Linked DNA regions of Homo sapiens: region 1 is linked to region 2. Evidence: fine-mapped expression QTL. Tissue or cell type: whole blood. Region 2 holds a variant in brackets; the other region holds the start of a gene. All regions are shown on one strand. Distances are between the middles of the regions.

Region 1 (8,115 bases), 120 kb before region 2:
TGGATCACCTGAGGTCAGGAGTTCGAGACCAGCCTGACCAACATGGTGAAATCCTGTTTCTACTAAAAATTCAAAAATTAGCCAGGTATGGTGGTGCACACCTGTAATCTCAGCTTCTCGGGAGGCTACAACAGGAGAATCACTTGAACCCAGGAGGCAGACGTTGCAGTGAGCCAAGATTGTGCCACTGCACTCTAGCCTGGGCGACAGAGCAAGACTCCATCTCAAAAAAAAAAAAAAAAAAGAAGTATATGATAAGAATACATATATGTGTGATATCTGGAATAACAAGGTTTTGTCCCCTAATATGTCTGCTAGGGCCAATAATCATGAAAGCAACAAAGGGTATAAAGAGAGATCAGAAGTACAGCACCAAAAAAAAAAAAAAACAAGCTCTAATTTTAAACAAGCCATTTTTGTGTTTTTTCTAAAACTTACAAAGATGCAGCATATACACTTTTCCCATTTCTTAGTTTGGGACATTTTTGCCCCTTTTAACATTATTAACATCTTTGTACATATATCCTGAGTACTTTTATTTCTGTAAGACAGATTCCCAATGTGGCATTATGGGGTCAAAGGTCCAAGACTACTCTGCCCAAAGGTTGTAGCAAATTATGATCCCACCAACGACACTTGGGGTCTAGCAGACTTCAGTAAATCTACAAACATTCCAGAAACTGGACACAAAACAAACTGTATACATGAGTATGTATACAGGGACAGGTCTATATCTTCAACAGATTTTTTTTTGAGACACGATCTTGCTCTGTCACCCAGGCTGGAATGCAGTGGCACAAACACAGCTCAGTGCAGCCTCAGCCCCCTGGGCGCAAGAGATCCTCCTGCTCTAGTTTCCCAAGTAGCTGGGATTACAGGTGTGCACCACCATGCCCGGCTAATTTTTAAATTTTTTGTAGAGTTGGGTCTACAAAACAGACTGGTCTCAAACTCCTGGGCCGAAGTGATCCTCCTGTCTTAGCCCCAGAGTGTTGGGATTACAGGAGTGGGCCACTGAGCCCGGTCTCAACAGACGTTTTAAAAAAAAGTCTGAAGCCCAGATAAGGCTGAGAACTAGTACACTATACCTTCTTCTCCTTAAGGCATTGATCACCTTATACGTTCATTCATTCTGCAAACTTTCCACTGCAGGTTCTTTATATCTGGCTTTCTACATATAAGAAGGAATATATGCATAAATAATTATGCTAGGCACTGGGAATATAGAGATGAATGAGATTCAACCCCTATTTGCCAGGGCCTTACAGTATCTGAGGACAGAAAGAGGAGTGGAGATGGAGGTAGACAGGTACAAAAGTATAATAAAACACTCCTGGCAGCTACTAAGGTATGAGGCAAGGAAGAAGACAATGTACTTGGGGAAGAGTGAATGTTTCAGCCTAACTGGATTATAGGATCTAATAGCACCAGTTTCAGGAGATGAGGGTAGCCTGGTGGTCAGGATGGAAGTCAAGGGAGAGGCTTAAAAAAAAAAGCCAATTTCAGTACTACACAGCCTTTCTCTTGTAACTGCATAGCAATATAAGCACATAATTCAGACTTTGTAGACCTTTTTTTTTTTGATGGAATCTCACTCTGTTGCCCAGGCTGAATACAGTGGCAAGATCTCGGCTCACTGTAACCTCTGCCTCCCAACTTCAAGCAATTCTCCCTCCCTCAGCCTCCCAAAGAGCTGGGATGAAAGGCACCTGCCGCCACATCCAGCTAATTTTTGTATTTTTAGCAGAGATGAGGTTTCGCCATGTTAGCCAGGCTGGTCTCGAACTCCTGACCTCAGATGATACGCCTGCCTGGGCATCCCAAAGTGCTGGGATTACAGGCATGAGCCACCACACCTGGCTGATTTCCTAGACTATTATTAATCACAAAGTGTCATCACAATTTCACCCACAGTGAGAGGCACTATAACATGTAGTTTAGGAAGACAGTCTTTGACATCATCTTCTGCAGTAATTTAACCTTAGTCTTTGGTTTCCCTATCTGTAAAATGGAGACAATTATATACATATCCTCTATTTCACATTTACATTCTTTTCAAATAGGTGTGTTAAAATCAGTATGTATGTTTAATTTTGTAGTTTTCTTCTCCCCCCAAAAGCTATCATTAATACATCTCTTATTCAACAGAACCTCAGAAACAAGTAAAATAGGTAATATAACAATACACCTCAATTTTCTTATCAGTAAAATTGAGGTAATAATTCTATCCAGGTCATAGGGTCTTATGAAGATGAACGGAGATAAAGCACATAAAACTCTTAGCAGTATACCTTCCACAAAGGAAATGCTACATACACACACACACACTCACTCACTCACACTCTCTCTGGCATAAAGTGTGCATAGTGACTAGACCAGAAGAGAATTGGTTTGGTTGGAAGGCCTCTTTCATAAAAGGCTCTTTCATAAAAGATGGAAGAATCTTGCTCTGGCCTTGCTGCTAACTGGTATCTTTTCCTTATACCACGGATTTCTGGCAGGATCTATTAGAATTTGGAGCCCCTGGCAGTTCTACTGTTTTAAGGTTGGTTAGATCTGGCTGAGATGCACTTAACAGCCCTTCTATCAGCTTTTCTCTGTAATCTTCCTCCTACCTTGTCTTCTGGCCTACTCTTGCCTGACACTACTGCCTCTTCACAACACTGCAGAGTTATTAATATTTTTTTAAAGCTCAGTCAGATCATGTCACTGTTCTGTTCGAAACCTCCCAGTGGCTTTCTCTTTCTCCCAGATTAAAAGCCTGAGAAAGGAAGAGGCAGGCCCTGACATCTGAGAGCTGGTCTGACACAGCTAGACTTCAGGGTTGTTAGAAGCTGGCCTGATGCTCACAGCTTGGCCCAGTTATTCTTCTGTGGGACATAATCTCACAGAACACCAACATGAGACAAGGTCAGTCAGACTATAAAAAAGGGACACAACAACAAGGCCATTTCAAAATTGTGTCTAAGCAGAGACAAGAGAGCAAGGTCACTGTGCAAGCCATGAAATACCAAACGTCCTTCTCTGCTATTATGAGTGACTGCTGCTTCTTTACTAGGTATAGCTTTATCCTCACTCTAGTCTGTCCATCTTATAGACAATACTTATTCAGATACCTAGTCACAGAAATGTCCCTGCTTTCTGACAGCACCCAATCCAGGGTGAAGCCTGGCTTTCTTGAGCCCTCCCGCAAATCGCCCAAATTCTATAATAGGTTCTCTCACCCTCACCAAGCTGTCCCAATGGTCCTCCACAACACCTGCTTCCTCACTGCAAGAACTATTAATAATGAACTCAACTTGTTTAAGCACAGGTGTGTTCCTGATGGTCTCTGGCTGGAGGGCAGGGACAGGCCAGAGTCCTTACAATTGTCTACAAAGTCCCACAGTGGTTCTTGGACTTCATCACCCATCAGAATCATCTGGAAGAATTGTTAAAAGAGAATTGCTGGTCCCCAACCCCAGAGCCTGTGATTGAATAAAGCTGGGGTTGAGGTCTTAGCATCTGCATTTCTAACAACTCCCAGCACCTGAGGCTGCAGATCTGGGGCTCACACTAGAAGACTCACTTCTCTAAACCACTTGTTCCCCCGTCTTATTTCCCTGACTTAGCCTCCTTGTCTCCACTCCCATCTTACTTCATTCTACTCCAGCCACACTGGCCTCCTTGCTGTGTTGAGCCTCCCTGGGCACATGCCTTAGGCTACTGCTTTGTCTGCACTCGGATTCGTAACACTTACTCCCTCACCCCTCAGTGAGACCTACCCCAATCTCCCTACCCTTTTCAGAATTTATTCTCCACAACACGTAATCAACCTTCTGACATGCTGAATAATTTACTTATTACATTTATTGTTTTGCTCTCTCTCTGCTAATAAAGGAATGACACCCTTAAGACATCAGCTATCTGAGTGTATTTTGTTCACGGCTGTATCCTGAGACCTGGAAAAATAGCTGGCAAGTAGTAGATGCTCAACAAAAACTTTCTGAATGAATGTTCCTTCCAGCTTTTCAGCTTCTTCTCCTGAGTCAGGGCAGCACTCCCTTCAGATCTTCCTATAAATACAATCTCTCTCCTATATGTCCAACCTCTTGACAATTACAATATCCAGCTCCTGGGACTTTTCGCTTCAGTGGCTCAGGCCAGGGATACAGGGCAGGTAAGTCAGCCATGGGCCAAGGAGATCAAACAACGCCAGAAAATTACTGTATCCTGCATCTCTTCTTCACCCACCTTCTCCAGATGACCTTATCCACCCATCTCCCTCCTCTCTTGTTTTCCAACTATTTGTTCACCTGGATTTCTCCTCTCTTTGACCACCAACATTGTTATGGCACCCCTAAAAAAAATAAAAAAAGCAACCACTCTCCCCGTGCTAAGCCACCCTCATGCTGGGGCTGTCCTATCTCCGCTTCTCCGGCAAGGCTCCTCCTGACTTTGTTTTTCCTTTCTACTCCCTGAAATTTTGCTTCTGAAGTTCCATTACCGCCTCCTTCCTAAATTCAACTGCAATTTTCGGTCTTGCTCTTTCCTGATACACTGTGGAATTTAATACATCTGTCTGGAAACTCTTCAAGAACACCGCGTGTTGCCTCTACCTCCTTTAGTGCTTCTACTCCGGTCCTTCCTAGTCTTCTCTTCATAAGTGTCCCCAAGTTTCCTTCCAGGAAGATGGGTCGTGGTTTCCTTGACGCCAATGCGTTTCTGGCCGTGCCCTCGTCACTTGCCCACTCCGGGGTCACGAAGGAGAGGCCCCGGATTCCGGGCGCAGCCGCGGCTGAGCCCGGGGCGTTGAATGCGGGTGGAATTTCCAGTCTGGGAAGGGGCGGGGCCTTGGACCGCCGGGAAGTTTGGTCCTCAGCGGCTTCCGTCCTGCAGCAAGTCCGGAAGAAGGTCCGGGGGCTGGAGTCCTGGGACCTAGCTCGGGACCGGCCTGGAGATGGAGTTCGACTGCGAGGGCCTGAGACGGCTGCTTGGCAAGGTGCGGGCAGTCCGCTGGGCCAGTTTGGGTCCTCAGGGTCTTGCGGGGGGTGCCTCTGCCTTTGGCCAGGTTGCCTCCGTTTTGCGTTTCCCGGCTTGTAGTGGGGCTTGGAGCCGGGGCGGCTGGTCTGAAACCGGCTATGGGGCGCGGCCCCAGGGAGGCTGAGGGGACCTGGATTCTGATTTCTCCCGCAACTCTGAGGTTTCCCAACCTCCACCTGGTGCGAGCCCTCCTCATACCCCCAGCTTCACTGACCTCAAACAGCTCCCAGCACACGCCTAACCACGCCTTTCTCTCTTTCTCTCTGCTGAAATGGTCTGCCTTTTTTTTCTTTTTTCTTGAATTGCAAAGCTCATCCTTTGTAAGACCCAACTCAGTCACTCCCTGTAAGATTGAATCAACCCTTCTGTTTTGAAAGATATCGATTATCACATTGTGGAGTAATTATGTATTTACAAACCGTAATCTTGCTGTGAGCCCCTTTGACTGCAGACATTGTGCTTTTGTATTCCCTTCCTCTAGCCACTATGTTTGACAACACCATAGGTACTAAGTAACTGTGCAGTGAATGAAAGACCTGAGTAGATTTAGAGATGAAGACAGAGCTTGAAGGCCCTGGAGAGATCTTAATGTTGGAAGGCTGGGGAGTAGGCGGGCCGACCTAGAAATCTGACCTATATTTCTGAGACCTGACTAGCCTGAGTTTCCGGTGTACAATCTGAGGGAATCCCCGCCAATTTTCTAGTTAAGAAGACTAGTTTTCACCAGTTTCCTAGTTAAGGTGGTTTTTTGTTTTTTGTGTTTTTTTTTTTGACAGAGTCTTGCTCTGTCCCCCAGGCTGGAGTGCAGTGGTGCGATCTAGGCTCACTGCAACCTCCACCTCCCGGGTTCAAGCCGATTCTCGTGCCTCAGCCTCCCAAGTAGCTGGGACTACAGGCGCGTGCCACCATGCCTGGCTAATTTTTGTATTTTAGTAGAGATGGGTTTTCACCATGTTGGCCAGTCTGGTCTCGAACTCTTGACCTCAAGTGATCCACTCGCCTGAGCCTCCCAAAGTGGTGGAATTACAGGTATGAACCACCGCACCCGGCCTTAAATAATTCTTAATGCTTCTTAAGACTTCCTAATGCAGAAACCATAGTTTATGCCATTTTTGTTATACTTGCCTCTTTCTTTGTTGGGGCAGTTTACATACCCGTGGGAGGTTTTGAAGTCCTAAGATTGAAATTGTTTATGTAAGTGACTTGAATGAATTTATCTACTGCGACAGGTGCAGATCTTGTAGGAAGAGAAGTATCATAATGCTACCCTTTCTGTCTCCTCTTCAGAGCATGTGAAATTAAAAGAACCATTCAAGTTTTAATGTGCAGAGGATGATGGATTGTCCGATGGGAAGAATTGTTCAAGTTAAGATTCAAACATAGAGCATATTTTTGGTGGCACTGGAATGAAGGAAAAGAAGAGAGACAATGGTTTTTTCAAGGGTGAGAGTAGAATAGTAGAGGATTTTTTTTTCCCCATCAGTGCATAGCATAGAGTCTGGCACATAGGTAGCTTATTATTATTATTACTGTTTGTTTTGAGACGGAGTCTCGCTCTGTCACCCAGGTTGAAGTGCAGTGGCGCGATCTCTGCTCACTGCCATCTCCGCCTCCTGGGTTCAAGCGATTCTCCTGCCTTAGCATCCTGAGTAGCTGGGACTACAGGCGCCCACCACCAAGCCCGGCTAATTTTTTTTGTATTTTTAGTAGCGACGAGGTTTCGTCATATTGGCCAGGCTGGGGTAGCTTATTATTAATAAGTATTTGTTGGCTGTATAAATTAAGGAAACCAATCAGAAACAAGTCAGTGCAGCAAATATATGAAGTTTCCTGACCATTCACTGCAGTCTGCAAATAATATTGTTTAATATCTAGAAATAATTTTAGTCTAGGCACAGTTACTCATGCCTGTAGTCCCCGCTACTTGAGAGGCTGAGGCAGGAGAATAGCTTGAGCCCTGGTGTTTGAGTATGCAGAGAGCTATGATTGTGCCACTGCTTGCCAGCCTGGGAGACAGAACGAGACCGTGTCTCTAAAAAGTAGAAATAAATGTAAGGCCAGGCACGGTAGCTCACGTCTGTAATTCCAGCACTTTGGGAGACCGAGGCGGGTAGATCACCTGCGGCCAGGAGTTCGAGATCGGCCTGTCCAACATGGTGAAACCCCATCTCTACTAAAAATACAAAAAAATAAGCCAGGCGTGGTGGCCCGCTCCTGTAATCCCATCTACTCGGGAGGCTGAAGCAGGAGAATCACTTGAACCTGGGAGGTGGAGGTTACAGTGGCCCAAGATCGTGCCACTGCACTCCAGCCTGGGCAACAGAGGGAGACCCCATCTCAAAAAAATAAAAAAAAATGAATTTAAAATTTTTTAAAACTTAGAAATAATTTTGTTGCAGAAAAAATCGATGGAGAAGTGATCAGTACATTAAAAAATTAAGCAACTATGGAGAAAGTAAAAAATCTAATTAAATAGATATCCCAGTTTCATAGATGTGAAGATTGTCAGTTCTCTCCAAATTTATCTATAGGGTCAATGCATTTCTTGGAAACTTCAAACTGATTCTAAAATTCATTCAGAAGAGCAGAAGGCCAAGGATAACCTTGACATTATTATGGAAAAAAAATAGATATGAGGGCTGGGTGTGGTGGCTTACGCCTCTAATCCCAGCACTTCGGGAGGCCGAGGTGGGCGGATCACTTGAGGTCAGGAGTTCAAGAGCAGCCTGGCCAACATGGTGAAACCTCGTCTCTCCTAAAAAATGTAAAAACTGGGCATGGTGGTGGGCACCTGTAACCCCAGCTACTTGGGAGGCTGAGGCAGGAGAATCGCTTGAACCCAGGAGACAGAGGTTGCAGTGAGCTGAGAATGCGCCACTGCACCCCAGCCTGAGCCACAGAGCAATACTCTGTCTCAAAAAAAAAAAAATAATAATAATAAAGAAGGAAAGAATAGATGATAGATTTGAGGACCTGCTCTACCAAATATCAGTACTACGGCAAGTAAAATTTAGTGTGGCATTGGTGTGGAATAGACTAACCAGTGAAACAGACTAAAGGGCTTAGAATCGTAGTCACACATGTTTGGAAATG
Region 2 (8,000 bases):
TGACTCACGCCTGTAATCCCAGCATTTTGGGAGGCCGAGGCGGGTGGATCACGAGGTCAGGAGTTTAAGACCAGCCTGGTCAACATGGTGAAACCCCATCTCTACTAAAAATAAAAAAATTAGCCAGGCGTGGTGGTGGACACCTGTAATCCCAGCTACTTGGGAGGCTGAGGCAGAAAATTGCTTGAACCCGGGAGGTGAAGGTTGCAGTGAGCCGAGATCACACCATTGCACTCCAGCCTGGGCGACAGAGCAAGACTCCGTCTCAAAAAGAAAAGAAAATGAGAAAGAAAAATACTTTAAGAAGAAGCTTCACCCCAGAAATGCAAAGGTGGTTCAATATCAAAAAATCTGTCAACATATTACATCAGATGAGATTTAAAGAAAAAGATAGATATGATCATTTTAACTGTAGGAAAACTCATTCAGGGATTAAAAAATAAAACTAAATCTAGGAACAGAAGGAAACTGCTTTTTATCTTAAAAAGGTATCTATCAAAATCCAAAGCAAACATACATTATGAAGAAAACTTAGAAGCCTTTTCATTAAAGTCAGAAACAAGACAAGGATACCCACTATCACTGTTTCTGTTTAACATTATACTGGAGAGTCTTCTAGGTTATGCAATAGGACAAGGGAGAAAAAAACTACCAAGAATAAACCAAGGCCAGACACGGTGGCTCACACCTGTAATCCCAATTCTTACAGGGAGGCTGAGGTGGGAGGATCACTTGAGACTTGGAGTTTGAGACCAGCCTGGGCAACATAACAAGACCGCGTCTCTACAAAATGTAAAAAGTAGTCAAGTGTGGTGGCATGCACCTTTAGTCCCAGATACTTGGGAGGCTGAGACAGGATCACTTGAGCCCAGGGGTTCAAGGTTACAATGAGCTATGGTTGTGCCACTGCACTTCAGCATAGGTAACAAAGCAAAAGCCTGTATCTATCTGTCTGTCTGTCTGTCTGTCTGTCTACCTACCTACCTTCATCTATCAATTAGTTTTTATAAACAGACCAAAGTCCTTATTTGGAGATGGTAGAATTATCTAATAGAAAACTGCTAATGCCTACTTGCCTGGGACTTTGAGGAGCTACTATAGGAGCAATTATTTTGTTTACTAAAACTGAATACCTTGCTATCTCTTTGATACATGTTTACAAAGCCTGGGTAAAAATGGTATAAATTACTTTTGAACCACCTCTACATTCTGAGGGTTTCAGCAGGACAATGAAGAGGTGTTCTATGTATAGAATTTGCAATATCAAAAATAAGAAAATACTCGTAAGTGAGGAAATGTGTTGGGTTTTTTTTTTAAGTGTAGTAGGACAATATTTCACAAATCATTCTACAAAGTGATTGTCCTGCTATTTCTGCAGTTTCAAAATAGGTGGTTTTTAGAGCCATTCACATAAATTTCCATTAATGAAGTCAAAATTATTTGGGGAAAAACAGGTAAGGTAAAGAGTTCACTTTCATATTATTTGAATTAAACCTCTTTTATTTTCTTACAGGCTCAGTCTTTAAGTAATAAAGTAGCAGCTTTCAAGTAAATGAAGTGTCTAAAATAAATATTGATTCAACTCTTATTTGAAAAATCTATTTGTTCTTGTTTTAGATGATTAGAATAGTATTTTAGGCATTTGTTGGTACCTTTTCCATTTGGTTGAACTTTTAACTTAGCTTTATGTAATAACTCATACTTTAAAAATAATAAATGCATCAAATTCTATCCTAAACATATGAAGACAATTTAAGATTCAGAATCCTGTAGTGGATCTCTGTGAAGGACATAATTTCTAATTTGTCTTTTTTGTAAATCCATATTTTTTATGGCAGATTTAAGTACTCAAATAGTAGAAATTAGACACTTTAAAAAGATATGAAGATGACATCTTTTGTCCTCTGAAACAGTGTTTTCTAAACAGGTAATATTTCCATTAATGTAAAAGTTAGAGCTTCTGTTCCCTGTTTAATATCCATTGATGGTAAAAAGTGATACTGAAACAGTCTGATCATACCACTATTTTAAATGGTAAGCATTCATTCTAATACCTGAGATGGAGAGAAGTATGGTAGAAATGTCTTTAAGTTTCCTCATACATAAAGCTGTCAAGTGAAGAACCTCGGTTAGTCATCCTGGGCCTTAAGAGGTTCGTCAACTGCCACTGAAACTCAAGGGGATTGGGGGACCTCTGCCAGGCCCTGGGTCTGGAACAGAGAATGTGACCTGTTTTAATTGGTAAACTGAAAACAGAGCAAGTAACTCAGCTGTGTCCCAGGGTACCCAACCGCATTTTCTAGGTAAATGACTATAGATTTGAAGAAAAGGTTAAACTTTTCCTAAATCTTTGATCTTCAATTGTTTAGGTTATCTTCCTGTATTATTTTACATCCCCTCCCTTACCGTACTGCCCTCTAAATTTTCCATTTTCCACTTCCATTTGGTCATTTAGTTCATGTAAATAGTTACTGGAACTTTTTAATTTGTAAAAAAAAAAAAAAAATCCTAAATACTCTTAAATCAACAATTACAAACCTTCATAAGCCATTCTGGGTAGATTTTTGTTCTTTTGGAAAAAATTTTTTTTTTTTTTTTTTTTAATAGAGACAGGGTTTCACCATTTTGCCCAGGCTGGTCTTGAACTCCTGGGCTCAAGCAATCCTCCCGCCTCAGCCTCCCAAAGTTCTGGGATTACAGGTGTGAACCACCACGCCCAGCCTCATTCTGAACAGTTTTGAAATTAATACCTAGTATTTGTCATGTCTTGTGCTCCACATTTCCACAGTAATAAACTAAAATGCTATATTAAAATAATGTCAACAGTGTGTTTTTGTAACTGAAATAAGATCTGTATGCAGGCGTGGCGGTTCACGTCTGTAATCCCAGCACTTCGGGAGGTCAAGGTGGGTAGATCACTTGAGGCCAGGAGTTCAAGACCAGCCTGGGCAACATGGCAAAACTCCAGCTCTACTGAAAATACAAGAATTAACTGGGCATGATGGTGTGCGCCTGCAATCCCAGCTACTTGGGAAGCTGAGGCACGAGAATCACTTGAACCCAGGAGGCGGAGGTTGCAGTGAGCCAAGTTTGCGCCACTGCACTCCAGCCTGAGCAACAGAGCAAAACCCTCTCTCAAAAAAAAAAAAAAAAACTTCTAAAGTTTAGTTTTACAATTCTACCACTACATGGACAAAATTATGCACTTAGGTAAGATAAATTAATATTTAACATAAATAAGAAACCCTTACTAATTGCTTGTTTTAATTTTTAAAATTTCACATTCATATCAGCATAATAAAATATCATATATAAACTAAAAGTCTGAAAATAGACTGCAGTAGGTCAGTTACTGAAAATAAAACACTGTTGAAATGTGGCCAGGCGCTGTGGCTCACGCCTGTAATCCCAGCACTTTGGGAGGCTGAAGTGAGCGGATCTCTTGGGGTTAGGAGTTTGAGACCAGACTGGCCATCATGGTGAAACCCCGTCTCTACTAAAAATACAAAAATTAGCTGGGCGTGGTAGTGCACGCCTGTAATTCCAGCTACTTGGGAGGCTGAGGCAGGAGAATTGCTTGAACCCGGGAGGTGGAGGTGGCAGTGAGCCGAGATCACGCCACTGCACTCCAGCCTGGGCAACAGACCAAGACTCCATCTCAAAAAAAAAAAAAAGTGTGCTAGGTAAATAGGTAAATGTGAGTATTGCTATAAAGTTAGTAATGTTTAAAAAATAGCACCACAATCATCATAACTATTAATACATTTAGTTTTTATCCATGATTTGCCAAAATAAAAATTGGCACATCCTTGAAAGGGAGATTTCTAAAGGAACTTAAGAACTTCTAAAAGTGTCTCTGGTGATTCATTTAAATGATACTTACTTTTCCTGACCTTAAAACTCTGATTTGAACTTGCACTCCATTTTGTAGTGATGCTACCTATACATATTACACATGTGTGAAGCCTTTACTACAGAACCACCAAAACCAGGCCTTGAGGACTGTGGAGACACGGGAGCTGCATCTGAAGGCAGTCCTGCATGGGAATTAGTACCTACGCCTGAGAAACCCCTCTCTACCCAGATTGCTCTCAGAATTGCCTTTTCTTTCACTAAAATTTTAGCTAAATATTATCATTCAGTGCCACGCGGTGGCTCACGCCTATAATCCCAGCACCTTGGGAGGCCAAGGCAGGCAGATCATTTGATGCCAGGAGTTCAAGACCAGCCTAACATGGTAAAACCCCATCTGTACTAAAAATACAAAAATTAGCTGGGCATGGTGGCACATG[C/G]CTGTAATCCCAGCTACTTGGGAAGCTGAGGCATGAGAATTGCTTGAACCTGGGAGGCGGAGATTGCAGTGAGCCGATATTGCATCACTGCACTCCAGCCTGGGTGACAGACAGAGACTCTGTCTCAAAAAAATAAATAAAATTATCATTCGGGGGGGAAAAAATCTTTCCTGAGTGGTATCAATTTTTGGTAGCTTAATACTAATTTAAAGTTGTCAGTTTTTGTTTTTGTTTTTGTTTTGTATTAGAGTAATGAAGTTAATTGTTTCTCTTAACTTTTGAAGCACCTGAAATTTTGAAGATGGTTCTTAGTGGACCATTTTAACAGACTCACTAAAATAATGGAGAAGACTTTCTTCACATGGTTCTAATATCAGAATAAGTTTTCTAAATAGATATGGAAGATATATTTGATAGTGTGTACTATAACTGCATACACTGTCAAGCAAATACAGAACTAAGCTGTTAAATCATTTGAGATTGAGATTTTTTTATTTTTCCTTATTTTTACTGCTGTTAATGGCAGACAGCCAGTATATAAAATGTAGAAAGAGTATCCTCTGAATGTGCTTATTAGAAATATTAGTCAATAAATTAAATATTCTTTAATAGACTTCTGCCATAATGCATAGAGAAGCATCTTTTGCTAATGTACACTTCTAAAATCTGTGGTGGGAGTGTGGTGGGCCAGTTAATGTTGCCAAGCAAGTGATGCTTAATTTGTTTTTCCTAATTTGTTATCATATAACCTTAATGACGCGGTACTTTGAGGGTAGAGGCGTTTTAGTGCAAATCAAAGTAGGTTGGGGATTCACTTAACACAAACAGTAAATGTGAACTTACTGTCCCCACAGACTTCAGTGCCCTGAACGGTTAGAGAAATTAATGAAGGAGCTCCACCAGGTGCCTTCACAACTCTGAGTCATATCAGAATCTCTCCACAGCTCTCCTTTCAAAAATGACACCGTGACATTTCAGGATGTGAAAAAACTTACTGGAAAGTGTGTAAGAAAATATAAAATACTATTGTACAATGTGATAATGTATCATCAGCTTGTTATTTTCAGTGTGCTTCCTTGTAGCGCCGGACTACCATTTCTGAATTTTGGATTTGGTATTTTTTTTAAAGAATCAAACTCTTAAAAGAGGAAATGCTTATACCAATAGCCTGTATGAAGCAAAATTTATGTGAAAGCTAAAGATATGCATGCAGTTAAATATATAAATAAATCTCAATGCCATACAAAAAGAACTTTTGATAATCTATGAACTATTTTAAAAAAGAAAAAACAGCCTCAAACTTATGGGATACCGTTAAACACACCAACATATATATGCATGTATGGTAGGACCAGAAGGAAGGGAGAGGAGCAGAAAATTATTCAAAGAAGTAACAGCTGAAACTTCCCAAATAGAAAAACATTATACATCCAAGCCGGGTGCAGTGGCTCATGCCTGTAGTCCCAGCACTTTGGGAGGCTGAGGTGGGCAGATCAGTTCGGGTCAGGAGTTCAAGACCAGCCTGGCCAACATGGAGAAACCCCGTCTCTACTAAAAATACAAAAAGTTAGCCAGGAGTGGTGGTGGGTGCCCATAATCCCAGCTACTCAGGAGGCTGAGGCACAAGAATCACTTGAATCCAGGAGGCGGAGGTTGCAATGAGCCGAGATCATGCCACTGCACTCCAGTCTGGGCCACAGGGCAAGACTCCATCTCAAAAAAAGAAAAAAAAAAAAACCTATACATCCAAGCTGCTCAATGAATGCCAAGTGGTATAAACTGAAAGACATTCACACTTCAACACATCATAGTCAAACTGTTACAAGCCAAAGAGAAAATACTGGAAACAGCAAGAGAAAAACAACTTATTAAATACAAAAGAACCAAAATGAATCAGCAGTAATCCCTATCAAAATCCTTGCTGGTTTTACTTCAGAAATTGACAAGCTGATACATAAATTCATATGGAAATGCTAAAGATCCAGACAAGCAAAATATATATATATATATGTATATATATATACGTATATATATGTATATATATATACGTATATATATGTATATATATACGTATATATATGCATATATATACGTATATATATACGTATATATATACGTATATATATATGTGTGTGTATATATATATGTGTGTGTATATATATATATATATATATATATATATATATATATATGTGTGTATATATATATATTTTTTTTGAGACAGTCTTGCCCTGTTGCCCAGGCTGGAGTGCAGTGGTGCGATCTCAGCTCACTGCAGCCTCTGCCTCCTGGGTTCAAGCGATTCTCTTGCCTCAGCCTCCCAAGTAGCTAGGATTACAGGTGTGCACCACCATGCCCAGCTAATTTTTGTATTTTTAGTAAAGATGGGATTTTGCCATGTTGGCCAGGCTGGTCTTGAACTCCTCACCTCAGGTGATCCACCTGGCTCAGCTCCCAAAGTGCTGGGATTCCAGGTGTGAGCCACCACGCCTGACCCAAAATAATCTTAAAGAATAGTCAGAAGACTTAATACATCCTGATTTCAAAACTTACCACAAAGCTACAGTAATCAACATATTTATAAATACTACTATGGAGTTGAGCTTCATGATATATTAAGTTAAAAATGAAAGAAGATGGAGAAAAACGTATGTAGTAACAAAAAGCTGTAAACCATAAAAAGTGTAAATGGTTACCTATAAAAGGATGGAGGCTATAGGGGAAAGGGCACAGGGACAGAAGCTGGACCACTTTGAATAATTCCTGTTCTCTAGAATTGATGTTGGAGCCATGTGAATATTTTATAAAACTGTGAAACAAAAGTTAAATAGTTCTTCAGCATCGAAATTAAAATGAATAAACTTAATCATGCACTCACTGTTGGTCTGCACAGAGAAAAACTACTCCAAATAATTTTAGAATACAGTAATTTGAATATCCCTAAACTACTAAGCTCCAGACTCATAATCTCTAGCTGTTTGACATTTCCTCTTGAGTATCATTTCAGGTATCTTGATTTTTCCCCTCTATATGTAACATCCCTGCCTCCTTCCCTCACTGACTCCCACCCGATCAGTAAATTTACCAACCCAGTTAAATGGAACTACCATCCCTTCAGTTACTCAAAGGAAAAACTCTCGAAGTTATTTTTTATTCCTCCCTTTCTCTCACTAGACATAATCTATCAGCAGTCCTGCACATTTTATCTCCGAAGTCTATTTTCAGTTTGTCCACCTTGTAAATGCACCAGTGAGGAGTCTAGTACAATTTTGGAGAGTCAGGCAGTAAACTATAGCCCTACTTTCACTTCTCAAACAGTAATTTGGAAAACAAACCTCAGCCTTTAGAATATAAACCTTGAACTCATATGATTAAGCATATTATCTTCCCATACACACTACTTTTTTTTTTTTTTTTTTTTGAGACAGGGTCTCACTGTGACCCAGGCTGGAGTGCAGTGGCGCAATCATGGCTCACTGCAGCCTTGACCTCCCTGGCTGAAGCAATCCTCCCGCCTCAGCCTCCTGAGTAGCTGGGACTACAGGAATGCTCCACCATGCCCTGATAATTTTTGTATTTTTTTGTAGAGATGGAGTTCTGTCATGTTGCCCAGGCCATTCTCAAACTCCTGGATTCAAGCACTTCACCCACCTTGGGCTCCCAAAGTGCTGGGATTACAGGCTTCAGCCACTGCATCTGGCCTCACAC

The links. PIP is the estimated chance that this variant, and not a neighbour inherited with it, causes the effect.
Region 1: UEVLD starts here. The variant in region 2 is fine-mapped to the expression of UEVLD in whole blood (TOPMed, PIP above 0.99).

What each region holds. Positions count from the first base shown.
Region 1 is chr11:18,585,479-18,593,593 of GRCh38, reverse strand. It overlaps UEVLD (UEV and lactate/malate dehyrogenase domains), which reads left to right and starts at 4,860. Exons shown (of 12, transcript NM_001040697.4): 1 at 4,860-4,981. The coding sequence starts at 4,940. It overlaps LOC112268073 (a long non-coding RNA gene), which reads left to right. Exons shown (of 4, transcript XR_002957242.2): 3 at 2,753-3,058; 4 at 3,314-3,501. RefSeq lists enhancers at 4,743-4,792, 4,698-4,992, 5,053-5,112, 5,153-5,302, 5,703-5,812.
Region 2 is chr11:18,466,365-18,474,364 of GRCh38, reverse strand. All of the region lies in intron 3 of LDHAL6A (lactate dehydrogenase A like 6A), which reads right to left. Among named protein-coding and RNA genes, the nearest start is that of LDHAL6A, 15 kb to the right of the region's middle. The variant C/G (reference allele first, on the strand shown) is at 4,293.